2 separate regions of the Homo sapiens genome follow, and region 2 is linked to region 1. The links come from fine-mapping of genetic effects on plasma protein levels. Region 1 holds a variant in brackets. A gene starts in the other region. All regions are shown on their reverse strands.

Region 1 (15,483 bases):
GTTTTTTCTTTAATATGTTAATATGTTATTGACACAGCACTGACCTATAATGAGAATACAGTGACCTATACTAAAAGAACATGGGTTAATTGAAGTTGCTTTATATTCCTTATTATTATAAGAAAGTTTATCTCCAAATACTGTTAAAACATTCTTAGAATGCATTTGTTCACTTTTATTCAATTATTTGTATATTCCCTTTTACAATCCCTTATATATTTATAATATACTATAGGATTTGTAGACCATAGAATTTGAGAGCTGGAAAAGCCTTAGAGATAATCTGGGCCAAATCACTTTATATTAAACCTAAGGATACCTAATATACACACATACATGTGTGTATATATATAACCTTCTGGTATTTGTATGAGAAAGGTGATTCATTTTGTCTGTGGACTTTACTTGAATTGTAGTTCTTCTCAGCTTTAATAAGAAATTATAATGGGAATTCTCATAACCAAATGGTTTATTTATGCAAGTGCCAGAGTTAAAAACAGCCTGAGAGTTACTCGTGACCCCTCTTCAGCAGAACATCTGCTGAGATGACCCTGAGAGTTGCTATTTAAATACAAGGGGATGCTTTCAGAGACTCCATGGGTTTACGAAGGAAGGAGGGAGGAAGATGTGACAAGAGAGCACAGTGTTGGGATTTAATCACAGAACAGGTACCCCGGGAAGGGCAAGTGTCCCCAAAACTTCCCTCCCCTTCATTTGTGGCACTGGGGAAATGTCACTGGTGAAAGCTATGTTCTATGCTGCTCTAGAAAGATAATTTTGCTGTCATTCAATCACACAGCTGGTGCATGCCTGAGTCTGAGCAGTCACTCACACTCTCCCTGTGAGAGACAGAGGAGAGAGGCTTAGGGAAAGAGCATGAACTCAGAAGAGGGCCTGCTCTGCTCTACCCTCAAAAGAGAAGTTCTCAAAACCTGAATGTGCTCACCACAATGCAAATTCCTGAGTCTCACTCCCAGATGGTCAATATTTTGGGAATGATGTAAAGAGACTGCATTTTCAACAAGCATTCCCAGGGGATTCTGATCACACGTATGAAAAATAACATTCGTGTGAAAGTTGATGTGGGAATCCTTCTTTTCTTTGCATGACTCTGTGAATATATGATGTGGGAATCTTAGAGCAGAATTAGGGTGAAGGTTACAGGGACGGTTGAGGTGTGGTGAGACAGCGGTTTCTAGAGACCAGTTGCTTATTTTGAAGTTTTTGCTCTGAATGAGTTGGCCTAGTTGTTGTCTTTGTGGTCATTTCCTCTGCCATCCCTTATCAGTGATGAAGGTCCTTAGTGAGGGAATTAAAATGAGAAAGAGGCCACTGAGGACCTTGCTACTTCTCTTCTTCCCTTGACTTCACTAATTATTAGTTAATTAATTAGTAAATGCCTAAAAGAAGATGTGGTGGTTCAATATCCAGTCTTTAAGAGAAAAGATGCTGTGGATTTCAAATGGGGCCTGGGAGTCTGATGCAGGTTTCCTGTGTCTCATCTTCAAAGTGTTAACTTTCCTCCTTGAAAGTAATGATGATGGGCTACAATTTATGTGTCCTGTAACATTGTATGGGATGACTTGTTTAATCTTTTAATCTTTTTCAGTAACTGTAATCCAGCCATTCCCAAATTGCTGTTTATGTAACTGATCTTAGTTCACTGTAATTTAGAAGGCATAGGGCCATCAGGGAATCACATAATCCACTGCCACTTAGAAGAAGGAAAATGAGGCAGAGAGGGTCAAGTGACTAAACTAAAGTCACACAGCAGGGACATGGTACAGAGGGCACCAGAACATGGGTCTCTCAATTCCCAGGAAAGAACCTTTCACTTCTGTAAAACAGAGCTGAGAAACATTCTGACATAAATGAGAACTGATACGATTTGGATCTGTGTCTCCATCCAAATCTCATGTTGAAATATAATCCCCAGTGCTGGAGGTGGGTCCTGGTGGGAGGTAATTGGATCATGGGGGTAGCATTCTCATAAATGGTTTAGCACCATCCCCCCTTGGTAGTATATAGTAAGTTCTCAAGAGATCTGGTTGTTTAAAAATGTATGGCACCTCCCCACTCTCTTTCTCCTGCTTGGGCCATGTGAAGATGACTGCTCCTGCTTTGCCTTCCACCATGACTGTAAGTTTCCTGAAGCCTCATAAAACAGAAACTGATACTGAGAAGCAGGGCATTGCTTGAAGATGTGAAAGCAGCTTTGGAACTGGTAATGGGCAAAAGTTGGAACAGTTTGGAGAGCTCAGAAAAAGACAGGAAGATGAGGGAAAGTTTGGAACTTCCTAGAGACTTGTTAAATTGTTGTGACCAAAATACTGATAGTGACATGGACAATGAAGTCCAGGCTCAGGAGGTCTCAGATGGAAATGAGGAACTTATTGGGAACTGGAGTAGAGGTCACTTTTGCTATGCTTTAGCAAAGAGCCTGGCTGCACTGTATCCCTGCTCTAGGGATCTGTGGAACCTTGAACTTGAGAGTGATGATTTAGGATATCTGGCAGAAGAAATTCCTAAGCAGCAAAGTGTTCAAGATGTAGCCTGGCTGCTTCTAACAACCTATGCTCATATGCACAGGAAGAGAAATGACCTGAAACTGGAATTTATATTTAACAGGGAAACAGAGCATAAAAGTTGGAAAAATTTGCAGCCTGGCCATGTGGTAGAAAAGAAAAGCCCATTTTCAGAGGAGGAATTCAAGCAGGCTGCAGAAATTTTATAACTAAAAGGCAAATACTAATAGTCAGGACAATGGGGAAAAGGCCTGAAAAGTATTTCAGAGACCTTCCTGACAGCCCCTCCTATCACAGACCTGAGGCCTAGGCAGGAAGAATGGTTTCATGGACCAGGTCCAGGGCCCAGCTGCTCTGTACAGCCCCTGGACACTGCTCCCTGTAGTCCCTTTCTTTTGGCTGATTTCTCCCTTTCGAAACGGGATTATTTACTCAATCCCTATATCCCCATTGTAACTTGGAAGTAAGTAACTTGTTCTGATTTTACAGGCTTATAGGTGGAAGGGACTTGCCTTGTTCAGATCAAACTTTGGACTTTTGAGTTAATGCTGGAATGAGTTAAGACTTTGGGGGATTATTGGGAAGGGATGATTGTATTTTGAAATGTGAGAAGGACATGAGATCTGGGAGGGGCCAGGGCAGAATAAATGGTTTGAATCTGTGTCTCCACCCAAATCTAATGTTGAAACATAACCCCCAGTGCTAGAGGTGGGGCCTGGTGGGAGGTGACTGAATCATGGGGCAGAGTTCTCATGAATGGTTCAACACCATCCCCCCTTTTGAGTTCTCATGAGATCTGGTTGTTTAAAAGAGCGCATCACCTCCTCCAACCCTCCTGCTCCAGCCATGTAAGATGGGCCTGCTTCTCCTTCACCTTCTGCCATGATTGTAAGTTTCCTGAGACCTACACAGAAGCTGAGAAGATGCCAGCATCATGCTTCCTGTACAGCCTGTGGAACCATGAGCCAATTAAGCATGAGCCCATTTCTTTCTAAATTACCCAGTCTCAGTTATTTCTTTATAGCAGTACGAGAACAGACTAATACAAAACAAAAAGTTATAAGGCTCTCAGGTTTCCATTTGCAAATATAATTGACCCTTCAACAACAGGGGTGTTAGGGGCATTGACTCTGCATGCAGTCAAAAATCTGCATGTAACTTTTGACTCCCCAAAAAGTTTACTAATAATAGCCTACTTTGGACCTGATGGATGCTTTACTGGTAACATAAACAGTTGATTAACACATATTTTGTATATGATATGTATTATGTACTATATTCTTACAATAAGGTAAGATAAAGAAAAGAAAACATTAAGAAAATCACGAGGAAGAGAAAATGTATTTACTATTTATCACGTGGAAGTGGATCATCACAAAGGTCTTCATCCTCATCATCTTCTAGCAGAGTAGGCTAAGGAGAAGGAAGGAGAGAAGGGGTTGGTCTTGCTGTCTCAGAGGTGGCAGAGGCAGAAGAGGTGGAGGAGGCAGAAGGAAAGGCAGGGGAGGCAGGCACACTCAGTGTAACTTTACAGCAATGCATTGCAATTTCTGTCTTTTTTGCTTTTTCACTTCTCTAAAAATGCTTCCATACAGTACCAGTACTTCTTCCACTTTTTGCTTTAGTTTCAGTGCCAGTATCATCAGGAGGATCTTTGTCATAAAAGAAGTCATAAGCAGTCTTGAATAATAGGAACCCTTCTTCCAGATTGTCTGATATCAATTTGTTTGGGGGCACTGCTTCTTCTACATATTCTTCATTGTCTGGCACTGGTTTGGAAGCACTCATCTCCGTCAAGTTATCTTCTGTTAATTCCTCTGGTGTGGTGTCCATGAGCTCTTGATTTTCTCCAAAATCCATAACCTGAGACCTTCACCCCCCCCCAATTTTTTTTTTTTTTTTTGCCATATTCACAATCTATTTCATGATTTCTTTCAGCAGCTCTGTTATAAATCGTGTGAACATCTGGACGGTTTTCTCCAGCAGGAATTTATTGTTTTGGACTCGATGACTTTCATGGATTTTTCTGTAGCAACAATGGTATCTTCAACAGGATTTTGAATCCTTCTAAACATGTATGATGTCCTCTCTATTGGGGGTTCTCTTCCACAGCATTAATAATCCTTTCCATATAGCATCCTCTGTAATGAGCCTTAAAGGTACTTATGACCCTTTAATCTACATGCTGACTTGGAGACATTGTGCTTGGGGGAAAAGAGACCATTTCATGGCTTTCAGTGTTGAACTCATGGGGTTCTGGGTGACCAAGGGCATTGTCCAATATCAAAAGAAAATTAAAAGGCATTCCCTTACTGGCAAGGTACTTCCTGACTTCAGGAACAAAGCATCATGAAACTAATATAGAAGAAGCTCTTGTTGTTCAGGCCTCCATGTTGTACAACCAAAAGACTGGCAGCTGGTGTTTATCTTTCCCCTTTAAGGCTTGGGCATTAGCAGCTTTATAGATGGGGGCAGTCCTGACCATAAACCTGACTGCATCTGCACAAAACAGTAGAGTTAGCCTATCCTTTCCTGCCCTAAATCCTGCTGTTTGCTTCTCTTCCTTACTAACAATTCTCCACTGTGACTTTTTTTTCCCCCCAGAACAGGGTACTTTCAGCTTCATTAAACACCTGTTCAGGCAGATATCCTTTCTCCTCAATGGTTTTTTTAAATTTTATTTTTATTTTAAATTTTTATAGGTGCATAGCAGGTATATATACTTATGGGGTACGTGACATGTTTTGATACAGGCATGTAATGCATAATAATGGAAAATGGAATATCTATCCACTTAATAAGCATTTATCATTTGTGTTACAAACAATCCTATAATACTCTTCATTGTTTTAAAATGTACAATAAAATTATTAATGACTACAGCACCCCTGTTGCGCTATCAAATACTAGGTCTTACTCGTTCTTCCTAACTTTTATTTTTTGGTACGCATTAACCATCCCCACCTCCCCCGCCCTGACCTCCCATTGCCTTTCCCAGCCTCGGGTAACCATCTTTCCATTCTCTATCTCCATTAAGTTCAATTGTTTTGATTTTTAGATTCCAAAAATAATTGGGAACATGTGATGTTTGTCTTTCTGTGCTTGGCTTATTCCACTTAACATAATGACTTCCAGTTCCATCCATGTTGCAAATGATAGGATCTCATTCTTTTCCATGGCTGAATAGCACTCCATTGTGTATAAGTATCACACACAATATCCATTCAACTGTTGGTAGATGCTTAGGTTGCTTCCACATCTTGGCTAGTGTGAACAATGCTGCAAAAAACATGGGAGTGCAGGTATCTCTTTGATATACTGATTTCCTTTCTTTTGGGTATACATGCAGCAGTGGGATTGCTCGATCATATGGTAGCTCTATTTTTAGTTTTTTTGAGGAACCTTCAAACTGCTCTCCATAATGGTTGTACTAATTTACATTCCCACCAACAATGTATGAGGGTTCCCTTTTCTCCACAGCCTCGCCAGAATTTGTTATTGACTGACTTTTGGATAAAAGCCATTTTAACTGCAGTGAGATGATATCTCATTTAGTTTTGATTTGCATTTGTCTGAGGATCAATGATATTGAGCACCTTTTCATATGCCTGTTTTTCATTTGTATGTCTTCTTTTGAGAAATTCCTATTAAACATTTTGCCCATTTTAAAATTGGATTATTAGACTTTTTTTCCTACAGAGTTGTTTGAGCTCCTTATATACTCGGGTTATTAATTCCTTGTCCCATTCAGTGTGTTATTTCTCCATTTTGTTGTTTGTTTCCTTTACTGTGTGGAAGCCTTTTAACTTGATGTGATCCCATTTGTTCATTTTTGCTTTGGTTGCCTGTGCTTGTAGGGTATTACTCAAGAAATCGTTGCCTAATCCAATGCCTGGAAAGTTTCCCCAATGTTTTCTTGCAGTAGTTTCACAGTTTGATGTCACAGATTTAAATTTTGATTTGATTTCTGTATAAGGAGAGAGATAGGGGTCCAGTTTCATTCTTCTGCATATGGATATCCCGTTTTCCCTGCACGATTTACTGAAGACACTGTGTTTTCCCCACTGTATAATCTTGACACCCTTGTCAAAATGAGTTCATTGTAGGTGTGTGGATTTCTTTCTGGGTTCTCTATTCTGTTCCATTGGTCTATGTGTCTGCTTTTATACCATTATCATGCGATTTTGATTACTATAATTCTGCAGTATTATTTGAAGGCAGGTAATATGATTCCTCCAGTATTGTTCTTTTTGCTCCAGATAGCTTTGAATATTCTGGGTCTTTAGGGGTTCCATATAAATGTTAGGATTTTTTTTTTCAATTTCCATGAAGAATGTCACTGGAATTTTGATAGCGATTGTATTGAATCTGTATATTGCTTTGGGTAGTATGGACATTTTAACAATATTGATTCTTCCAATCCATGAACATGAAATATCTTTCCATTTTTTTATGTGTGCCCTCTTTAATTTCTTTCATTAGTGTTTTATAGTTTTCATTAATAGAGATGTTTCACTTCTTTAAGTTAATTCCTAGGTATTTAATTTTATTTGGGGCTATTTTAAGTGGGATTACTTTTTAAATTTCCTTTTCAAATTGTTCACTGTTGGCATATAGAAATGCTACTGATTTTTGCATGCTGATTTTGTATCCTACAGCTTTACTGCATTTGTTTATCAGTTCTAACAGATTTTTGGTGGAGTCTTTAGGCTTTTCCAAACATAAGATCATATTATCTGCAAACAAGGATAATTTGACTCAATGATTTTCTTAATGGCATCTGGGAACTTGTCTGCTGCCTGCTGGTTGACAGAAGCTGCTTCGCCTATTACCTTGACA[T/C]TTTTTAAGCCAAACCTCTTTCTAAAATTATCAAACCATCCTTTGCTGGCATTAAATTCTCTAGCTTTGGATCCTTTACTTTAAATTGTCATATAATGACTTCACTTTTTTTTAAATCATATTAGTCTATAGGTGTGCCTTTTGTATAGCAATCCTGTACCCACCTAAAAGCTGTATTTTCAATGTGAGATAAAAAAAAACTTTGCACAAGAAGTGCAAGGTTTTCGTACCTGCTGGTATGGCTGCAAAAATAGCTTCATGAATTTTCTTTTCTTTTTTTTTAGAACAGTCCTTATGCTGGATTTCTTTATCCTGAAATAGCAGTCAACTGCAGACCTCAATCTATGGTATATACTAAGCAATTCAACTCTTTCTTGTAATGTCATGACTCTTCTCTGCTTCTTGGGAGCACTTACAGTATCACCAGTGGCACTTCATATAGGTCCCATGGTGTTACTTAAGGTTTATGGTATTGCACTAAACATGATGAATAATATGCCGTAACTGTGAGAGATCACTTTTTACTGTGAATGCAACTTACTGGAATGATAAACTGCTCAGTCAGAGATGATTAGCATCACACAGCGTTTTAAGCAGATACTCCCAACACTTGAGCTCAGCACAACAGCAACAGGAGGTGGCTATGAAATTATTACAGTAGCAAAGTATGTTTTGGAGTTAATTTTAGCAGTTATGAGTTAATAGTGCATCTTACATTGTTTACATTTTTCTTAACTGTGAAAGACGTCATGTATGGGCTTTAAGTGTGTGCATAAGTTTTGATAAATTTTAACCTTTTATAACAGATTTGTGCATATTTTATGGCAGTAAATGATAAAATAGACTAGTACCTACATATATTTTATGCATTTGTGGCCTTTTTCTTAAATTTTTTGATATTTCCATGCTACATGGTTCATCTGTCTTTTTTCAAATTGTTGCCAACCTCCAAAAAATGTTTCAGTATATTTATTGAAAAAACTCACATATATGTGGACCCATGCTGTTCAAACTTGTGTTGTCCAAGGGTCAACTGTATTTTCAAACAGAACACTTGTTAAGTGCTTTCAGAATGAATCTCGCAGATGATTTTCTTTACTATGTTGGGCAAGATGATGTGCATGAACCAAGTGACAGGTGGTGATGGCTTACTTATCTGATAACCTCAGCTCCTAGGAGCACACTGAGATCTGAGGAGTTTGAAAAAAAAAAAAAAGTCTCTGAGCAATTAAATCCAGGTCATGTAGGTCTGGCCTGACATTCTGCTGGTTTTCCCCATGCAGGAGTGTGTCGGGGCCTCATCCTCTTTTATGTAAGATAAATCGCTTGGTCACAGGGGAGACATCAACTGCTCAGCAGACTGGAAGCAGCAAATGTAAGAGAAAAAAAGAGCAGTATACAAACAGACAGTTGGAAATACAGTACAAAGCAGTAGGAAGTGAGAGTTTAATGAAAGGAGATGGAATTTAACTATTAACACCATGTCCAGATCTGAACAGTCACAGCAGGCAGGCTGCTGTGTGTGCAGGTTAAGGGGCCTCCAAACTTAAAGCCTCCAAGAAATCACTGCATTAAACTGCAGCATCTCAAGATGACCCTGGGTCTTTAAAACAAATGTTCAAATTATTTTTGGCAAATCAAATTTAAGAAAGCAGGGATGGATAAGATCCACTGAAAATTTCCCATTAAATTGATTAAAATGAAGGGTAATTAAAGCTTTTATTATTTGGAAAGTTATTTTCTTTGATCCCACTTTACTCAGTGAAGATGCAACCCTGGCCATGCATGAAAATACGCTGGAGCTTTTAGCAAAGAACCTTCCATTTAAAGAGGTGTGGAGAGGGCTGGGTCATCTTTCATTTAGTTTGATCCTCCCTCCTAACAGTCATTCTGAAAGTGCACAGAACAGATTCTCCTGCTCTCATCCTCCCAGGCATGCAGGCATCACCTCTGCCTGAGGCATGCCCATGAAAGCAGGGAAGCCAGCAGGTGTCCTATGCGGGCTCTTTGCGCCTCTGCAACCTAACACTCTCCCAGGCCTTGTGGGTGTGGGATCACATCTTTGGGAACATCCTCAGTTCCTGTGGCAGCTTTTGCCCCTTGATTCCTTCCTTCTTTTTTCTTCGAATTTAGTTTTTATTTTTGCTAGAATTATGCATGTACGTAAAGAACCAAATAATTGTCCACAATTCTCCCTCCCCAGAAGCAGTCACATTCAATGCCTTTAGCTGATTGTTTCCCTTCCTTAGTATTTATGTTCATATTTCCAAGTAACATGCTTATATTGTTTACTTAGAACTGTTTTTCAAGCATCACCTATTAAATTCCCCATATGGAGAATGAGAATTTTGCTATTTTTAACCTCCCCACTGTCAGGACACAGAGATCTAAGCGTTAATTAATCCAGCTTCTACACAGTTCCTGTCTTTTATAACTAGCTTTAACCCAGTTCCCAGAGGTACCTGGTCACCAGGTTAGATCTGAGCTGGTGGTTGGCCTGTGAGTCAGGCTGTGTCAGGCCCCCCAAGACCAGCTTCAGATTGAGGTTCCTGAGTGGGCAGCTAAGCCAATTATCACTTGTTCAGCTGTTACTCAGTTTCTAGAATTTTGTTGCTCCCGATTTCTTTGTCCTTATGGATTTGTGGCTTAAAGAAAAACCCTCTACTGTCATTTTAATGAGGTTTTAGAGTAGAGATTAAAAGCATTTGTTAATTCACCATCTTTAACAGGATGTCATTGATTTGTTTTTTTCCTCCTCCAGAGAACAATTTATTTTCCATTTAAAATTACCTGATAGAAACACCTAGCTCACTGAGGGAAAGCATTTGGGTTTCCTTCTTGATCGTCTTCCTATCCTTTATTAAGCATACCAATTCAGTGACTAGAAAGGAAATTATAATCCAAAAATGGGCTGCAGTTTTGGCATTTAAAGAGACAAAAACATAGATATTAGAAAGCGGAAAAGACTTTGGCCCTGATATTAGAAAGTGGAAAAGACTTTGGCCCTGAAAGAATTTGACAAATCTTTTCCCAACTTTTATACATTTCTAACAAATGAACTTTTATGATGTTTCTCCCTCTGCAGACTCCTGTTCAGCTCTCCTGCTGGTGTTCCTTACCAATCTCCTACTTGAGAACATGTATGCATGTGTTCGCCTGGGCTTATGAATTATAGAGACCCATTCTTGCATGGCCACATCACTTCTCACTCCCATGGCGGCCCAGACTCACGCATCCCATATCACCCCTGCAGGATCTGATATTTAATCAGTCCCTTTGACTGGCACTGCTGATCTCTGACTCTGAGCAAAGTCCCCATACTCTTGCCCCTGTCTTGAATCCCCGCTTTCACTTCCTCACCCCCAAAGTTGGTGTTCTCCTATGACACTACTTCCCTGTTTACCTCGTCAATGGAAAACACTCCTCTCTTTTTCAGAATTTTTCTAAATGTCACGGCTTTCTGTATTATCTCAGACGAGGAGCCTTTCTCCCTTTCTGAGGTCAAGTGTTTCATGACTGTACTTCATTCCTGACCTCACATCCTTCATCCTGAATCTCTGTCTCATCTATTAATGTCTTCCTCTTCACTGGGTCGTTTATATACTCCTAGCAACATGGTTTTATTATTAAAATTTCTCTTTTACCCCAACTCTCTGTGTCACTGCATTCTCTTCTTAACAGAGAGGACTATGCAGGCAGGCTGCCTCCAACTGCGCATCTCCGAGTTGTTTCCACTGCTCTTTCCATGGTCCCTTTGGGTCCTCCACTGCTGGGATGCATAGGTTCCTAGCCTACCTTGGTTGGAGGTCTTCACTTCTCAGCATTCCTCTCCTGCCACGCTTCCTCTTCCCAGTACTAACATCAGCATAGCATGTTCCTATGTAAAAAATAGATTACACAGCCAAGAGCCTGAACCCTTCTGAACTGGGGACATTTTTTAACATGTGTTTGGGGGTGGATGTCTGACTCTTTATTTCCACTCAGTTATTTAAACAAGGTTTTAACTAATAAAAATATATGTTTGTGCTTTAAAATTCGAAATACATCTAAAATAATCCTCTCTTGCAGCACTTTGGTGACCTATATCTGTTGGCAAGCAGAATAACAATTACTTATCAAAAGTAAGATCTTATGCAACTGTCTTTGAGCCCAAAACAAATTAGCAATTCTTCATATGACTAATGACTATATGTCCTTACCATAATTGTAAACATGAGAAACAAAAGATCAAGGGACTCTAAAATAAGTACTTGGGATAACAGAAGGGCTGTGTAGGCGTTCATCAGTAACTGTGAAACCAAAAGATAATCTTTACACGCTTCTAAAGATCTTTAAACCCAGAGCAACTTGAACCATTACACAGTGGTTATTCTCCCCCCATCCTAATCAAAATCCCTAATAGATAAGATTCTTCAGCTTTTTAAGTACAAGCACATGTATCCCTTACTGAAATCAAACATAAACAGAAAGCCACATTATACTGAAAATTATCAAATCTCATAAACCAGTGAATTGACAATAACTCAAATTGTTGAATAGTTTTTTTTCTGATAAACAGTTTTTTTCAAATTCCACAAAGTCCACAATTTTCATAGCAATACATGCATTGAATGGAATCAAATAATTAAAATAAAATCATATTTAGTTAATATTTGGGCAACTACTCTGTGCAGAATGTTAGAACAGATGTCATGGGTAAGATACAGAGAGCAGCTTGATATATAATCTTAGTGCTTTAGGAGGTTATTATCCTGTTTACAAGATGGAATGCATTAATAAAATACACAATAACTGAAGAAGCCCTACCAACTGAAGCAAATTAAAGGTTTAAAGGGCTGAATAGAATGCTTTAGGTAACATAAATCCTGGAATCTTGAAAGGTCTCCCAGAAGACTGTTGAGATAATTGAAAAAGAAGAAAGTACAGATTGGCAGAGAGGGCAGAGAAAGAAGTCTCAGCAGATGAGTGATGTGTGCAAATCTGATTAAGTAGAAACACAGGGAATGGGGACAGGCAGCCCAAAGCAGAGGGTAGATGGCTCACCATCCCTTCCCTTCCTCCCTCACTCTCCAGAAGCACCTTCCTTATCTATTGCCAACTGCCTCCCATCAGGTCTGCCCATGGACATTCTCTGCACACAGCTATTATGGTCAGTACCTGAAAGCTCAGTCCCTCTCCTGTTCTACACAAACACCAATGTCTCCCCAGTGCCTCACACACCAACTTGAGACTCCTGAGTAACACACGGTAAGTATTCAATATATTTACTGTGTTTACTTCCATATCTCCTGTTCAATAATTTGCAGATTGTGTTAATAATTTGTAGATTGTGTTGTAGATAAAAATTGTGTTTGAATAATTAAATGTAGATTGTAGGGAGAGTTAGCCTGCAAAGGACTAGAAGTAGAAAGACCACTTTGCTAACAATATTTGCTGACAAGATGAGTAAAACAAGATGGGGATTGTGGAGTTTGTTGATTAGTCACTAATATGAATACTCTTTCAATAGATATTAGAAAAAAAATGTCACACATATCCTTATCTTCAATCTATTTTAAACAAGTTCATTTCTGAGATAAGGGATTTTTTTTTTCAGGGTAGGCAATATAGTTTCTTGGTTTTAAAGAACAGCAACGAAAAAAACCTTAGAAAGTCAGGACAATTTTTTTTTTTTATGACTTGAAAATATTCTCCATAATAGAATCTCCCAAATCAACACTCAAAAAATCAGAAAATTAAAAGAACTCCATTTTGTGTATTTTTATTACAATGCAGAATACTGAATTTTTTGGTTTTACCACAGCTAAAATTAATGGGATGATTGTTTATATAAGAAGAATTTTATAGTCTGGTATAACATTTGGATGTTAAATTAATGAATTTATCAGCACGCGAAAATGCCAGTGTACTAAAAAGTGTCAGGAGGTTGTAACTGGAATCCATCTCCTTTACAAGAAGCCATTCTCCCTCTACTCAAGCCTTACCTATCCTACTGTGTACCAGAGTCACGGGTGACCAGCAGGAGCTTTGGCAACACAGTTAACACTGAAGAAGAGATTAGTGCAGAGTTTCTCAATTTTGGCTGTACATTAGAAACACCTGGGAATTTAAAATAGTTATTAATTCCCAGCCCCATACCTCAGACCAATGTTAATGTATTTTGAATGGTCCCCTCAGGTGAGTTTGTTACCCAAGGCTGAGAACCACTGAATTGGTATTTTCTTTAGCCATAGAAAAATAATTTTCTTATTTGATTTTCTTGATATAGCATCCAAAAAATGAAATAGTTTTGGGGCAAAGTATATGATGCTATTAATTTCATTTAAAGAGAGGAAACAAACTTTCACTTACCTGCCTTCTGACAATGTACGATCTTTTCATATACAGCATCTGCATTTTCAATCAACGCCTTGAGGGACTGAATCATCTGCAAAGGGAACATCCAGACATGAGATTACACCTGACAACTAGATCCCCTCCTGCATTCATGCACAAGGCTCTTCTCCTAAAACAGGCTGATGTGATGATATTAAACGCTTTTTTATCTGACTTTCCACTACTCAACTTCAAATGTGCATGTGAAAATGATAACATCACACATCCCCACATAATGGTTAAAACAAGATGTGAATAGTATTACTTTCCAAGTGCAGTGAGGCTAGTACAACACTGCACTTGAACCCTGAGCTAATATACTGAACTGAGTTCATTTCAGCGTGAAAAGCTACAAATATGCGTGCAAATCTGATCTGAGTTTTAAAATTTGGTTATCCATTTTAACAAAATTTTCAACTTCATCTTATAGAAAACTTCAACACCTACACACTTCACTCATTTCAGCCAAAATGTCTTCATCTGAAATTCAGTTTAAAACATACAATGAGAATTAAAAAATAGCATTTATTTATTTGATACCATTCATCACTAATAGTACCTCTAAAACTAGTATTTTTATGTTCCTATTAATGGTTTTTAAAATGTTCAAATTTGAATTCTTGTTCCAAATTGCATGTGCTTGTTTTAAGAGCCCAAGCTTGAAGAAGGGAAAGAATCAGTGAACAGCTGATCCATTATTTTACTCACCAAAAAGCTAGGAAAAGATCCCTCTGAAGTAATCTTGTTGGCTCTAAAATCACTATGAAAAGGAAATGGGATAGCCAGAAACAAGTCTCATGGCTCAAATGGGTACAATTATGATATCTACCTTAGTATAAATTTTACATATTTGTATTTAAATATCCAAATATTTTGCATTATAATATTACTCATCTATTTTACATGACCATCATATTTTAAGTAATAAACACCCAACCATTCCTTTCATTTCTGCCTCATTTTTTTTCTTTTTATTTTTTTAAGAGACACGGTCTGTTCTGTCAGCCAGGCTGGAGTGCAGTGGTGCAATCATAGCTCAGTGCACTCTCCAACTCCTAGGCACAAGTAATCCTCCAGCCTCCATCTCCCAGGTAGCTGGGACTACAGGTGTGTGCCACCATGCTTGGCTAATTTTTAAAATTTTCTGTAGAGATGGGATCTTGCTATGTTGCCCAGGCTGGTCTTACACTCCTAGGCTCAAGTGATCTTCCCACCTCGGCCTCCCAAGTGCTGGCATTACAGGCATAAGCCACCGCACCTGGCCTGCCTTATTTTTCTTTATAGCATTTATCACTAATTGCCATAGTAATTATCTTATAGTAACTAAATATATGCAGGTTGGATTATTTGCATAATTCAAAAACCACCATATTTTTGGTAAGTTACACTTATTTAAAATATAACCAACATGTCTCTTAAAAAGTGTACTAGCTTCTTAAGCTTAGTCAGATAGTATTTATCAACTTGCACAGTTCTAAAAAAATGGTAAACATCAAAAGTTTAAAGGCCAAGGCAGGCATTTATTTACGCCTTCATAATGTATCTTTAATCATCGCTGGGGTCTACTGCAGGCAGCCCCTGTGTGGAAACCAGGGATACCTGACCTACAGGATACAACCCCTGTCCTCAAGAAGTCCACAGCCTATGGCAGAGTTTGCACTTTGGAATTCAGTATTTTCACATTCATTCTTCAAGATCTGAGTCATTCCCATAAATTAAAATATTCTATTTTACAGCTTGACGT
Region 2 (15,007 bases), not on the chromosome of region 1:
TTTATTAGGCCAGTTTGGTGGCTCACACCTGTAATTCCAATACTTTCGGAGGCAGAGGCAGGTGGATCACTTGAGCCCAGGAGTTCAAGACAAGCCTGGGCAACATGGTGAAACCCTGTCTCTACAAAAAATGCAAAAAAATGACCAGGCGCAGTGGCTCACATCTGTAATCCCAGCACTTTGGGAGGCTGAGGCAGGCGGATCACAAGGTCAGGAGATCGAGACCATCCTGGCCAACATGGTGAAACCCTGTCTCTACTAAAAATACAAAAAAAAAAAATTAGCTGGGTGTGGTGGCGTGTGCCTGTAATCCCAGCTGCTCGGGAGGCTGAGGCAGGAGAATCGCTTGAACCCGGGAGGTGGAGATTGCAGTGAGCCGAGATCACACCACTGCACTCCCTCCTGGGCAATATAGTGAGACTCCATCTCGAAAAAAAAAAATAGCCAGGTGTTACAGTGTGCACCTGTCCCAGCTACTCTGGAGGCCGAGTAGGGAGGATCACCTACATCAGGAAAGTTGAGGCTGCAGTGAGCCATGATTGTACCACTGCACTCCAGCCTGGGCGACAGAGTGAGACCCTGTCTCAAAAAATATATATATGTTTACTGAATGTATAAATAGGTGAGTGGTTGTATGGATGGGTGAATGAATGAATGGGTGAATGGATATGGATGGGTAAATGAGTGAATGGATGGATGGAGGATGGATGATGGATGGACGTGTGGGTGAGTGATGAATGGATGAGTGGCTGGAAGGTGGATGAAAGAATGGACGGATGGATGGATGGTAGATAAATGGATGGGTGGATGTGTGTATGGATGATGGATAGATGGATTGGTGGATGGATGGTGAAAGGATAAATAGATAGATGGATGGGTAGATGAATGGATGGATAGATGGATGGGTAGATGAATGGATAAATGGATGGGTAGATGGATGGATGGTAGATGGATGTGTGGATGGATGGCAAAAGAATAAATAGATGGATGGATGGGTAGATGGATGGATGGAGGGATGGATGGAAGAATGGATGGATAGATGGATGGATGGTAGATGGATGTGTGGACGGATGGTGAGAGAATAAATAGATAGATGGATGGGTAGATGAATGGATGAACGGATGGGTAGATGGATGTGTAGATGGATGGTAAAAGAATAAATGGATGGATGGGTAGATGAATGAATGAATGGATGGACAGACGGATGGATGAATGGATGGATACATGAATGGATGAATGAATGGGTGGATGGATGGATGGATGGATGATGGATGGATGGAAGGATGGATGAATGGGTTGATGGATGATGGATGGATGCATGAAACTGGATGGGTGAGCAGATGGATGGACTGATGGATGGGTGGGTGTATGTGTAGATGTATGGCTAGATAGATGGATGTGTGGTTGGATGGATGAATAGAAGTATGGGTGCATGGCTTGATAGATGATGAATGGATATATACATGCATGAATGCATGGATAGATGGATGGTCACTTAGAGATTCTGAACTACAACATGGGCCCAACTCACATTCTATCCCAGGGCCTCCTTCATCCAAATAGTTTTTAAACCAGTGTGTACCATCATTTCATGAGACACACCCGAATCCTTCTGTCATGGATAAAGCAGAGGAATCTAACCAAGGACACCCTGACTCCTCCCCCATCTAGTTTACAACTTCCTTGTGGTTGTGGCCATTTTTTGCCAAACCTATATTGCTTCAACTGTGGCTTGGATCTCAACCTTTATTCATCCCAGAGGGGCCTCCTTCCCTCAGTTGCACTGCCATCTTCTAGCTCTTTACTGTCTCCAATCCCATGACCCCCTTTCCCTCTGCTGACAACATGATCCTGTCTCTCCACTTCCATAAAGACCTCCCCTTGACTTCAACACCCTCGCATGCTGCCCTCCCATTTCTCCTTTCATTCATGACCAAACTGCTCCGATGTGTGGTCTGTACTTCCCTCTACCATTTCCTCTCTGCCCACTTGTGATTTAATTAATCCTCAGCAATGTGGCTTCCAGCTCTGATGCTCTAGGAAAGGTGCTCTCACTGAGCCTCTTGATCCCCTCCAGCCACTCCCTGAACCTCCCACTGCCTTACATTGGGCAGTGATTACCAGCAGAGGCTCTGGAATCATTACCTACAGCCCTGAGTCCCAGTCACTCTTCTACTTGTTCCTGGTTGTGTGACTAACAGCGATTTTATGAACTTCAGTTTTCTCATCTGTGAAATGGGTGTGATGATAAGACACTCCCTCATGGTATGACCTGGAAAACTAACTGAGATGAAGTCTATAAAGTTCCTAGTCTCCAGCTGGCTCAGGGAATCGCCTTGTCATCCCTGGGAACCTACCATCCTTCTTGATGCTCCTCCCACTGGGATTTGGGACATGGTTCTTCCCTGAGCTCCCTGTGAGCTCCTCTTCTCAGAAATGTCCCTGAGCTCTCACTATAGGCTGGGGTGGGTGTTGGGGCAGGGGAATCTCAGCAGTTAAGTCTATTAGTTTACTTTGTCCTCACAACAGCTTCAGGGAGTAAGAACTATTAGTTTCTACAGATGAGAAAATTAGGAACTGACCAGAGTAGTTTAAGCAACTGGTCCACTGTAATCCCAGCACTTTGGGAGGCTGAGGTGGGAAGATCGCTTGAGCCCAGGAGTCTGAGACCAGCCTGGGCAACATAGTGAGACTCTGTCTCTACAAAAAAAATAAAATGAAAATTAGCCAATCATGGTGGTGCACGACTGAGCCATGACTGTGGCACTGCGCTCCAGCCTGGGCAAAAGAGCAAGATTCCATTTCAACAACAACAAAATAAATCTGCTTCATGGGCACAGAGCTAGCTGGTGGCAGGAGCAAGCCTGGGCTTCTGTCCTAGACTTTGTTTTTGCCTCAAGCAACCTTCCCTTCCTCCCTGACATCATCTACCCCAGATCTTTTACCTCTGGATAAAGACTTCTTTTTTTTTTTTGAGACGGAGTCTTGCTCTTTCGCCCAGGCTGGACTGCAGCAGCGCTATCTCGGCTTACTGCAAGCTCCACCTCCCGGGTTCACGCCATTCTCCTGCCTCAGCCTCCCAAGTAGCTGGGACTACAGGCGCCCGCCACCATGCCCGGCTAATTTTTTTTTTTTTTTGTATTTTTAGTAGAGACGGGGTTTCACCGTGTTAGCCAGGATGGTCTCGATCTCCTGATCTCGTGATCCACCTGCCTCGGCCTCCCAAAGTGCTGGGATTACAGGCGTGAGCCACCGCACCTGGCCTGATAAATACTTCTTAAATCTCTGTCTCCAGCCCTGACCAGTAACTAATCAGACACACCCACCTGGACACTCCTCCTTCCGGCCCATCTTTCTGTGGCACCCCTCAGCTCTCTCTGCCTTGCAGCCTGGCCAGCTCTGTGCAGTTCTGTCCCCCACACTAACCTGTGAGCTGCTGGGAAGCAGAAGTCTGTCCTGCTATGGTTCACTCAGCCCCAGGTACCAGAAGGGCAAAACCGAGTTCCCTCTCACACCAGCCTCCTTTTTTTCTGTTCAAGCCAGCATTGTTTCCCATCTCCCCATCTGCCCCCAAGTCTGAAACTTTGCCCTTGACTCATTCCTCGCCTCCATCCCCCACATTACATCAGGCAGAGACTCTGCCCAGCGCTGTCTTCAGTGGGAGCTTGGCTTCCTTGCTTCCTTCTCATCTCCACTGGCTCAGCCCTCATCCTTCACACCCAGAGAGTCTCAAAAACTTCTGGGCCTATTTCTTCCTCTCTGGTCTCTCCTGACACCTCCCTCATCAGCTGCATGCCCACATGTGGTGGATCTTTCACAAGGGCTGCCCTGACCATGTAATGCCCCCTTCCTCCAAAACCGTCAATGGCTCCCTGCTTCCTTCCCCATCCAGTCAAAACTTTTCAGGCCAATCTTGAAGCTGTACCTTCCATCTAGCCCCTCCTTCCTATTCAGTCTCATCTCCCTGCTCCCCAACATTGAGCTTTCTTGAGGGCCAGTGCGTCCCCTCACTTTGTGACTTGGTTTGCTGCTTCCAAACTCCTGTCCCCTTCTTGTATGGATTATCTTCCCTTGATCCAAAGTCCATCCACCGCTCATCTAACACATGCCCTGAAAGATCCAGCGAGGGGGTCACCTCACAGTGGAGGGGTTAGGAGCAAAGACTCTAGGTCAGGTCACCTGGTTTTGAATTCAGCTCTCCCATCAGCAGGCGGTGACACTGTGAGCTCAAAGTCACTTCTCTCTGAGCCTCAGTTTCTACAGCTGCAAAATGAAAATAATAACAATAATTACATTAGAAGGCTTTGGTTTGCATCAACTGCCTTACTGCTTATATCTGGCAAATAGTACACGTTTCTGACTTTAAATATCATCTATATGCCAACCACTCCCAAGTTTCTCTCGCAAACTCCAGCCTCCTTCTACGTCCAGCTGCCTACTCGCCATACCAAATAGGCAGCTCCAACCCCCCAAGTCTGAAGCTGAATTTCTGATTCCCACCCACCCCTACACCTGCTCTCTCCTCCTTCTCTGCCAGCCCCTTCCTTCCGGTTACTAGGGCCAGAAACCTGGGCGCTATCCCTGACGCCTCTTCCTCTCGCCCCCAACTTCCCATCTGTTGGGTGAGCTCATGTCTCTGCTTTCCAAATACACCCAGAAACCAGCATCAATCCCTGGCTTCCTACAACTGCCTTCTGGGTGCTCTCCCTGTCTCCATCCTTGCCCCCTACAGTGTATTCTCAGCACAGCAGCAGAGGGACCATGAATCTCCCGTGTTCAGAACGTCCCCGTGGCTCTCCACCTCACGCAGAGGACAAGTCCAAGACCCTCCAGCAGCCACGAGGCCCCGCGAGTTCTGTGCCCTGCTCTCTGCCCACCTGTATCTCCTGGTTCCCTGGTTCACTCTGCCCCAGCCACCCTGGCCTCCTCCCTATGCCTCAAACCAACCAGACAGACATGCTCCTTCCTGAGGAGGTTTGCACGGACTGTTCTTTCAGCCTGGAATGTTGTCCCCAGATACCTGCAGGACTCACTCCTTCACCTTTTTCAAACTTTTTTAGGCCGGGCGTGGTGGCTCACGCCTGTAATCCCAGCACTTTGGGAGGCCGAGGCAGGTGGATCACTTGAAGTCAGGGGTTCGAGACCAGCCTGGCCAACATGGTGAAATCCCATCTCTACTAAAAATACAAAAATCAGCTGAGCGTGGTGGCAGGTGCCTGTAGTCCCAGGTACTTGGGAGGCTGAGGCAGGAGAATCACTTGAACCCAGGAGGCAGAGGTTGCAGTGAGCCAAGATCACACCACTACACTCCAGCCTGGGCAACAGAGCAAGACTCTATCTCAAAAAATATATATATATATATATTATATATATTTATAATATATATAATATATATTATAAATATATATTATATATATTATAAATATATATTATATATATTATAAATATATATTATATATATATAAAATATATATTTATAATATATATAACATATATATAATATAATATATATATTATAATATATATATTATTATATAATATATATAATATAATATATATTATAATATAATATATATATTATAATATATATTATAATATAATATATATATTATAATATATATATTATATATAATATATGTTATATATATTATAATATATATATTATATATATTATAGATAATAATATATATTATATATATTATAGATAATAATATATATTATATATATTATAGATAATAATATATATTATATATATTATAGATAATAATATATATTATATATATTATAGATAATAATATATATTATATATATTATAGATAATAATATATATTATATATATTATAGATAATAATATATATTATATATATTATAGATAATAATATATATTATATATATTATAAATATATATATGTATTTGTTTAGATTACATCTTTCAGTGAAGTCAAATTGCATGCCATCCCCATCTCTTCCTCTGCTCTTTTTTTTTTTTTTTTTTGCTGAAATGCTTATATCCTCTGACATGCTAGGCCATTCGCTTACTTATGTCTGCTGTTTACTATCTGTCTCCCACCTGTACCCCCACCCCCATCCTACTGGGATGTAAGTTGCATGGGACAGAGGTTTCTGTTTCTTTTCTTTAATGGAATATATCTCGGCACATGGTAGGCCTTCAATACATAGTTTTTGGATTAAGTGAGTGAATGGATAAATGGCTGGTGTTGTTCCTGAAGCAGAATGCAGAAACCCTTCTTGTTACTCTCACTCTTACCAATGGACTTGTCTCAATGTCTCTCTGATGCCTGGGCTCCAGGACTTCTGAGCTTCCACTCAAGCCTTGTAAATGAGTGCCTTTTATTCATTGCTAGAGTCTGACTCTCTTTCCAAGGAACATCTGTCCCTGTTTCCAAGCTACTTCAAAGGCAGGTCTATGGTCCCCTGATGACATTGGGAAAATTTGAGGTTCACCCCTCAGGGTGTAGTGACAGAAGTCACTGAGAACTCAGAAGTCCTCTGCTCCTAGTCTGGCAGCCTGCCTGCAGTCGGGGTGGGGGGATTGTCCTGCCAAACTCGACCCTCTGGGCACCCGAGGAAGATCTGTTCAGCACCAGGGTCAGTGACAAGCACCCAGCATCCTGGGAAGAAGCCTCACACCCTTTCCAAGGAGCCTGGTGGATCTGGCCTCTTTGAAAGGCCTTGGGAATCTCAGCCACTGCAAAAGCCAGCAGGGAATGGGGTCACGACTCAACAGCATTTGGAGATTTGACACGTCGCACAATGCCACCTGGGTCATGGCTCTCCCCAGGGGAGGCTGAGGGTATTGGGAAGGGCTGTGGCCACTTCTGAGCAAGCCCCAGACCTGGGAAGCAGGAGTCCCTAGAGAGCCCTTTGCAGGGAAGAACCAGCACCTCAGCTGCCCTCTGAGCTGTGGCTGTCCCTCTGCACTGTGGGGCTTTCGCCTGAACCACACTTGGCTAACAATAGGGTCCCCCTTCCTTTCTGCCTTGCCTGGGCTCTGCTCTCTCAGCTTATGGGTGACTGGGCTCTCTCCACTGTCTCAGGTTGAGTTCATTAAGGATGTGCTCCTTGGGGAAGTGGAGGGAAAGTTGGGGAGTGAAGACAGAGAAGGAGTGGAAACCCAGCAAGGGTGTGACCTCAGGTGACGTCCCCGGGGGGCAGCTTCAGCCAGATTCCTTGGAGGGGCACAGGAGAGTGATTGAAAGTAAAATCAACCAAAAGGAGTGGGGCCTGGGTAGGGCATCAGCGTTGCTAACCACACTACTGTACCCACCACCAGGTTAACAGATGTATTACCACGTCACTGAGCCCCGCTTTCCTCCCCTAATCACAGCCTCTATGCACTAGAGGAACAGAATTTGGCAGCCATTAGTCCCACGCATTTCTTCACAGCTCACTAACTCATATGTGTGTATGTCCTTAAGCAATATATAGCATTGTTCATGCACATTTCTTTTTTTCTTTTTTTTTTTTTTTCCAGACAGAGTCTTGCTCTGTTTCCCAAGCTGGACTGCAGTGGTGTGATCTTGTCTCACTGCAACCTCTACCTCCAGGGTTCAAGCGACTCTCCCACCTCAGCCTCCTGAGTAGCTGGGATTATAGGGGTGCACTGCCATGCCCAGCTAATTTTTGTATTTTTAGTAGAGACGGGGTTCCACCATCTTGGCCAGGCTGGTCTCAAACTCCTGACCTCAGATGATCCTCCTGCCTTGGCCTCCCAAAGTGCTAGGATTACAGGCGTGAGCCACCACACCGGGCCTGTTCATGCTCATTTCTAAGCTTTATATCGACACCATCATCTTGTATCTATACTTCCACATCTTGCGGCATCACACCTGACAGTGTCATTTGTGTTGATATATGCCAAATGTATAGTTCTTTCTTTTCATCATTGTATGCTATTCTATACACCAACTATACCACAATTTACAAAAAGAAGAAGAAGAAGAAGAAGAAGGGTGTCTGGAGTGAGGCTGCCTGCTGGCTTAGTTACTAAGTGCGTGGCTTTGGGTAAGTTTCTTTTTTTTTTTTTGAGATGGGGTCTCGCTCTTGTCACCCAGGCTGGAGTGCAATGGCATGGTCTCGACTCACTGCAACTTCTGTCTCCAGGATCAAGTGATTCCCCTTCCTCAGCCTCCCAAGTAGCTGGGATTACAGGCACACGCCACCAAGCATGGCTGATTTTTGTAGTTTTAGTAGAGATGGGGTTTCACCATGCTGGCCAGGCTGGTCTGGAACTCCTGACCGCAGGTGATCCACCCCGGTTGGCCTCCCAAAGTGCTGGGATTACAGGCATGAGCCATTGTGCCCGGCCCGGGTAAATTTCTGAATCTCTCTGTGCCTTTGCATTCCCATCTGGAAAATGAGGCTCAGATGGAAACCAGCCCAATGCTCCCATACACTGTTCTTTGGACAAACATGGAAATTGACCCTTCTGGTCTTAAAGCTTGAAACTTATATTTGCTTTATCTGGGTTCCTTCTGCAAGGAATGACCATTGGGCCTCTCAAAAAAAAAAAAAGTGTCAAAGAACTGAAACCCACCAGATTACTGTACCAGATACCAGACCCCCTCATTCACCATGATTGCTTCATTGCCCCTGTCTAGTTCCTGTTTTCTTTTATATTTTATAATTTTTTTTTTGAGACGGAGTCTCGCTCTGTTGCCCAGGCTGGAGTGCAGTGGCGCAATATCAGCTCACTGCAAGCTCCGCCTCTCGGGTTCACGCCATTCTCCTAGCTCAGCCTCCCAAGTAGCTGAGATTACAGGCGCCCGCCACTACTCCCAGCTAATTTTTTGTATTTTTAGTAGAGATAGGGTTTCACCGCGTTAGCCAGGATGGTCTCGATCTCCTGACCTCGTGATCCGCCCACCTCCGCCTCCCAAAGTGCTGGGATTACAGGCGTGAGCCACCGCGTCCTGCCAGTTCCTGTTTTCTTATACATTGTTACATTTCTTCTCTGCTGTATAAACTCCTGGTTTTAGTCAATCAGGGAGATGGATTTCAGACTGAGCTCCCATCTGCTTGGTTGCAGCACTCGATTAAAGTCTTCCTTGGCAATACTTGGTGTCTCAGTGATTGGCTTTCTGTGTGGGGAGCAGCAGGACCTAGACTGCACCCATGGTGTTTTGGTAACACTATGAGCACGAGCTCATCTTTGAGCTGTGACAGGGATGACAATGAGAAAATGCATCCAAAGGCTCACAGGGATATCATGTGGACAGTGAACCTCATGAGAAGAAGGTCCATGTCAGGCCAGGAGCAGTGGCTTACGCCTGTAATACCAACACTTGGGAGGCCAAGGGGGCAGATCACCTGAGGTCAGGTGTTCAAGACCAGCCTGGCCAACATGGTGAAACCCCATCTCTACTAAAAATAAAAAATTAGCTGGGCAAGGTGGCACACACCTGTAGTCCCAGCTACTTTGGAGGCTGAAGCAGAAGAATCGCTTGAACCTAGGAGGCAGAGGTTGCAGTGAGCCAAGATCCCACCTTTGCACTCCAGCCTGGGCGACAGAGCAAGATTCCTTCTCCAAAAATAAAAAAAATAAATAAGTAAAAAAAAGAAGGTCAATGTCTTATTGATCAGCATCTCTGGCAATAAACTAATGACTCCTTTCCTCCACCTCTCCCCAGGCCACCACTGCTGTTGCCCTGGTGGTTACCTACCCCTGACACTCTAGAAAGAGGGCCCCAGCCATGTGGATGGGATTTCTCCTTCATTGATCTGATGGTGGTCGTGGCAATGTATAAGCACCTGGAAACAGGTCAGACAGGTCCAGGTGAGAACCAGGGGTGGGGAGAAGGGGAGGCCCAGGAAAACATCCAGGTGGCAGAAGCTCTGGCACTCAGAGAGTCCTGATGCAAGATCTTAGACTCATCAATGAGGCAGTAATTCCTCTATATCCAGCTGTACCCAACCCCTACACCCTACTCTCAAATACCAGAGGAAGCAGAATTGTTCACTGTTCTGGACCTCAAGGATGGCTTCTTCTGCATTCCCCTGCACTCTGACTCCCAGTTTCTCTTTGCCTTTGAGGATCCCACAGACCACACATCCCAACTTACATGGACGGTCTTGCCTCAAGGTTTAGGGATAGCTCTCATCTGTTTGGTCAGGCACTGGCCCAAGATCTCGGCCACTTCTCAAGTTCAGGGACTCTGGTCCTTCAGTATGTGGATGATTTACTTTTGGCTACCAGTTTGGAAGCCTCATGCCAGCAGGCTACTCTAGATATCTTGAACTTTCTAGCTAATCAAGGGTACAAGGCATCTAAATTGAAGGCCCAGCTCTGCCTACAACAAGTCAAATATCTAGGCCTAATCTTAGCCAGAGGAACCAGGGCCCTCAGCAAAGAATGAATACAGCCTATACTGGCTTATCCTCACCCTAAGACATTAAAACAGTTGCAGGGGTTCCTTGGGATCACTGGCTTTTGCCAACTATGGATCCCCAGATACAGCGAGATGGCCAAGCCTCTCTATACTCTAATCAAGGAGACCCAGAGGGCCATCTAGTAGAATGGGAACCAGAGGCAGAAACAGCCTTCAAAACCTTAAAGCAGGCCCTAGTACAAGCTCCAGCCTTAAGCCTTCCCAGAGGACAAAACTTCTCTTTACACATCACAGAGAGAGTGGGAATAGCTCTTGGAGTCCTTACTCAGACTCGAGGAATAACCCCACAACCAGTGGCATACCTAAGTAAGGAAATTGATGTAGTAGCTAAAGGCTGGCCTCACTGTTTATGGGTAGTTGCGGTGGTGGCCATGTTAGTATCAGAGGCTATCAAAATAATACAAGGAAAGGATTTCACCATCTGGACTACTCATGATGTAAATGGCATACTAGGTGCCAAAAGAAATTTATGGCTATCAGACAACCATCTGCTTAGATACCAGGTGCTACTCCTTGAGGGACCGGTGCTTCAAATATGCACCTGTGCGGCCCTCAGCCCTGCTACTTTTCTCCCAGAGGATGGGGAACCAATTGAGCATGACTGCCAACAAATTGCAGCCCAGACTTATGCCACCCAAGAGGATCTCTTGGAAGTCCCCTTAGCTAATCCTGACCTTAACCTATATGCTGATGGAAGTTCATTTGCGGAGAATGGGATACAAAGGGCAGGTTATGCCATAGTTACTGATGTAACAGTACTTGAAAGTAAGCCTTTTCCCCTAGGGACCAGCGCCCAGTTACCAGAACTAGTGGCACTTACCCAAGCCTTAGAACTGGGAAAGGAAAAAAAGAATAAATGTGTACACAGATAGCAAGTGTGCTTATCTAATCCTACATGCCCATGCTGCAATATGGAAAGAAAGGGAGTTCCTAACCTCTGGGGGAGCTCCCATTAAATACCACAAGAAAATCATGGAGTTATCGCATGCAGTGCAAGACCCCAAGGAAGTGGCAGTCTTACACTGCTGAAGCCATCAAAAAGGTGAAGGAGAAAAGGCAGAAGGAAACCGTCAGGCAGACGCTGAGGTCAAAATTGCTGCCAGGTGGAAACTCCCATTAGAAATACCTAGAGAAGGACCCTTGGTATGGAACAACCCTCTCCAAGAGATTAAGCCCCAGTATTCCCTGACTGAAACAGAATGGGGACTTTCATGGGGGCATAGTTTTCTCCCCTCGGGATGGTTAACGACAGAAGAGGGCAGCCAGTGGAAAATACTTAAGACCCTCCACCAAAGTTTTCATATGGGTATTGAGAACACTCATCAAATGGCCAAATCCCTATTTACAGGGCCAAATCTCCTCCGGACCATCCGACAAGTAGTCAAAGCCTGTGATGTGTGCCAAAGGCATAATCCCTTGGCCCATCGTAAGGCCCCTCTGGGACAACAAAGAATAGGGCACCATCCCAGAGAGGACTGGCAGTTAGACGTCTCTCATATGCCTAAGTCAAGGGGATTTCAATACTTGTTAGTCTGTGTTGAAACCTTTACAAATTGGATAGAAGCCTTCCCTTGCAAGACAGAGAAGGATCAGGAAGTGGTTAAAGTCCTAATTCATGAAATAATTCCTAGATTTGGGCTTCCCCAAAGCTTCGCAATCCAGCTTTTACACTCTTACATTTCCAACCTAACCTATTACACAAGCAATGAAAAAACCATACATGGCCCTGCAACCACGAATACTGTCTTAACTTTCCAAGCCCCTTTATGCATCCAATGCAACCTGTTATCAGGACTGCCCCTGGGGCACCTACTATCCCATCAGTGTAATTACACCCTACAACTTCAAGCCCCAACTGATCACAGTAACTTCCGACTCACCCAAACAGCTCCATTCAGATGGCTTGTCCGCTTCTCAGAGCCTCCAAAAATCATCACCTCCTTCCTGCTTAACAAACAGTCTAGGTTTAATAATGGCAAACATACTCCCTGCATGACCATTCACCCCTGGACCCCCTGCAGCAGCGCCCCCACCACTAGTGAATGCCTTCTCATCCCCTATTTCAATCACTCTCTTGAATGGTTCCTAGTAGATACAAAACGATTTTTTCTCCAATGGTAAAATAGAACACAGGGAGCCACTCAGTTTGCTCCCAACACTCCTTTCCAGCCGCTCACTGGAGCTACCTTGGCAAGTACTCTAGGAGTATGGGAAAATGAAAACAACAAACTCACACACCTTTTTAACATACACAACCAGTTCTGTGTACCCAGCCAAGGCATATTCTTCTTATGTGGAACTTCAACCTATATCTGCCTCCCCACCAACTGGACAGGCACCTGCACCTTAGTCTTCCTAAGTCCCAACATTGACATTGCCCCAGGAAATCAGACCCTATCAGTGCACCTCAAAGCTCAAGTCTGTCAGTGCAGAGCAATACAACTAATACCCCTACTTATAGGGTTAGGAATGGCCACTGTTACAGGAACCAGAATAGCCAGTGTATCTACTTCATTATCCTACTACCACACACTCTCTAAGATAGTTTGCAAGAAATAACAAAATCTATCCTTACTCTACAGTCCCAAATAGACTCTTTGGCAGCAGTGACTCTCCAAAACCACTGAGGCCTAGACCTCCTCACTGCTGAGAAAGGAGGACTCTGTACCTTCTTAGGGGAAGAGTGTTGTTTTTACAGTAACCTGTCAGGGATAGTATGAGACACCACCCGGTGTTTACAGGAAAAGGCTTCTGAAATCAGACAATGCCTTTCAAACTCTTATACCCACTTCTGGAGTTGGGCGACATGCTTCTCCCTTTTCTAGGTCCCGTGACAGCCATCTTGCTATTATTTGCCTTCGGGCCCTGTATTTTTGACCTCCTTGTCAAATTTGTTTCCTCCAGGATTGAGGCCATCAAGCTATAGATGGTTTTAAAAATGGAACCCCAAATGAGCTCAACTAACAACTTCTACCGAGGACCCCTGGATCGACCCACTGGCCCTTTGGCCCAGAGAGTTCCCCTCTGGAGGACACTACCACTGCAGGGCCCCTTCTTTGTCCCTATCCAGCAGGAAGTAGCTAGAGCAGTCATTACCCAATTCTCAACAGCAGTTGGGGTGTCCTGTTTAGAGCGGGGATTGAGAGGTAAAGCCAGCTGGACTTCCTGGGTCGAGTGGGGACTTGGAGAACTTTTCTGTCCAGCAAGAGGAATGTAAAACGCACCAATCAGCACTCTGTAGCTAGGATTGCAAAATGCACCAATCAGCGCTCTGCAGCTAGCAAGGGGATTGTAAAATGCACCAATCAGCACTCTGTAAAAATGCACTAATCAGCACTCTGTAGCTAGCAAGTGGATTATAAAATGCCACAATCAGCGCTCTGTAACAACGTACCAATCAGTGCTCTGTAGCTAGCAAGAGGATTGTAAAATGCACCAATCAGCACTCTGTAAAATGCACCAATCAGCAATCTGTAAAACACACCAATTGGCAGGATTCTAAAAGTAGCCAATCGTGGGGAGGATTGAAAAAAAGAGCACTCTGATAGGACAGAAATGGAACATGGGTGGGGCCAATAAGAGACTAAATGCTGCCCACCCCCAGCCAGCGGCGGCAACCTGCTTGGGTCCCCTTCCATGCTATGGAAGCTTTGTCCTTTTGCTCTTCACAGTAAACCTTGCTACCACTCACTCTTTGGGTCCGTGCCATCTTTAAGAGCTGTAGCACTCACTGCGAAGGTCAGCGGCTTCATTATTGAAGTCAGCGAGACCATGAACCCACTGGCAGGAACCAACTGGAGACACACTGAGACTCCAGAGCTTCTAGATTCTCCCTTGCCTCCTCACTCCTCTGGAGAGATTGGGCGACAAGCAGGGTGTGACCCAGTCCAGGCTTCCTGGGGATTCTGGCCTGCCTGGGGACAATGTCTTGACCGGGATGTGCTGGTGATTGCATAACCACAGGACCAGCTCAAACTAGTTTACCATTGCTTGAGTTGTTACAGATGGCACGGAGCCAAAACTGCATGTCATGTAGCCTGGCCCGGTGCAATCAGAGAAAACTTCCACCTCCTGAGAGTTAGCACCACCAACGTGGCAACCGGCCACATTGGCATCCCTGGGACTAGTTAACAGTGCCATAACAACTTGACCCACCCAGGGATCAGGGAGGCAGATTTGAGTGTTGTCTCCTGTCTCCTTGCCAGGTGACTTGGAATAAAGCTTTTTCTTTTCGCAAAAGTGGTGCTATAATATTGGCTTCTACTCACATCGGGCAGCAAGTCCATTACTTTGTAACAATTGGAGGATTCGAGGAGCTCAGGAGTGACTCGAACACATCACAGATGATCACTTTCAGTCTCTGACAGTCGTTTGAGGGAGTTAAATACTTTCCACCAGGAAATTCCTTGAAATTCAGCGCCCCACAAGGACAAGGTGGGCTTTTCCATCAGTTGGAAAGGGGCACGGCACAAGGAGTGTCAAAAGACACAGATGGGTGGGCTCTGGCCTTTCCCCTCTTCACCCTTTCCAGGATCTGCAGTGGTCACTGGGACACAAAGGGAAACAGGGCACATCCATGCCTTCCCTCACAGATCTTT

Which allele goes with the higher level. Alleles are on the strand shown, and positions count from the first base shown. The strength of an association depends on the size of the effect and on how common the allele is.
With allele C in place of T in region 1, the plasma level of the protein whose gene starts at base 4,249 in region 2 is lower (moderate association).

The links. PIP is the posterior inclusion probability: the model's chance that the variant is causal. The UK Biobank Pharma Proteomics Project read protein levels with antibody pairs (Olink). The fine-mapping took linkage between variants from a reference panel, not from the people measured, so its PIPs are less certain.
Region 2: CCL17 starts here. The variant in region 1 is fine-mapped to the plasma level of the CCL17 protein (UK Biobank, PIP above 0.99).

What each region holds. Positions count from the first base shown.
Region 1 is chr3:17,041,182-17,056,664 of GRCh38, reverse strand. PLCL2 (phospholipase C like 2) reads right to left here. Exons shown (of 6, transcript NM_001144382.2): 4 at 13,716-13,791. It overlaps PLCL2-AS1 (PLCL2 antisense RNA 1), which reads left to right and starts at 2,081. Exons shown (of 3, transcript NR_046640.1): 1 at 2,081-2,139; 2 at 12,477-12,611; 3 at 13,752-13,913. RefSeq lists an enhancer at 2,056-2,245. The variant T/C (reference allele first, on the strand shown) is at 7,365.
Region 2 is chr16:57,394,009-57,409,015 of GRCh38, reverse strand. CCL17 (C-C motif chemokine ligand 17) reads right to left here and starts at 4,249. Exons shown (of 4, transcript NM_002987.3): 1 at 4,180-4,249. RefSeq lists an enhancer at 8,547-8,596.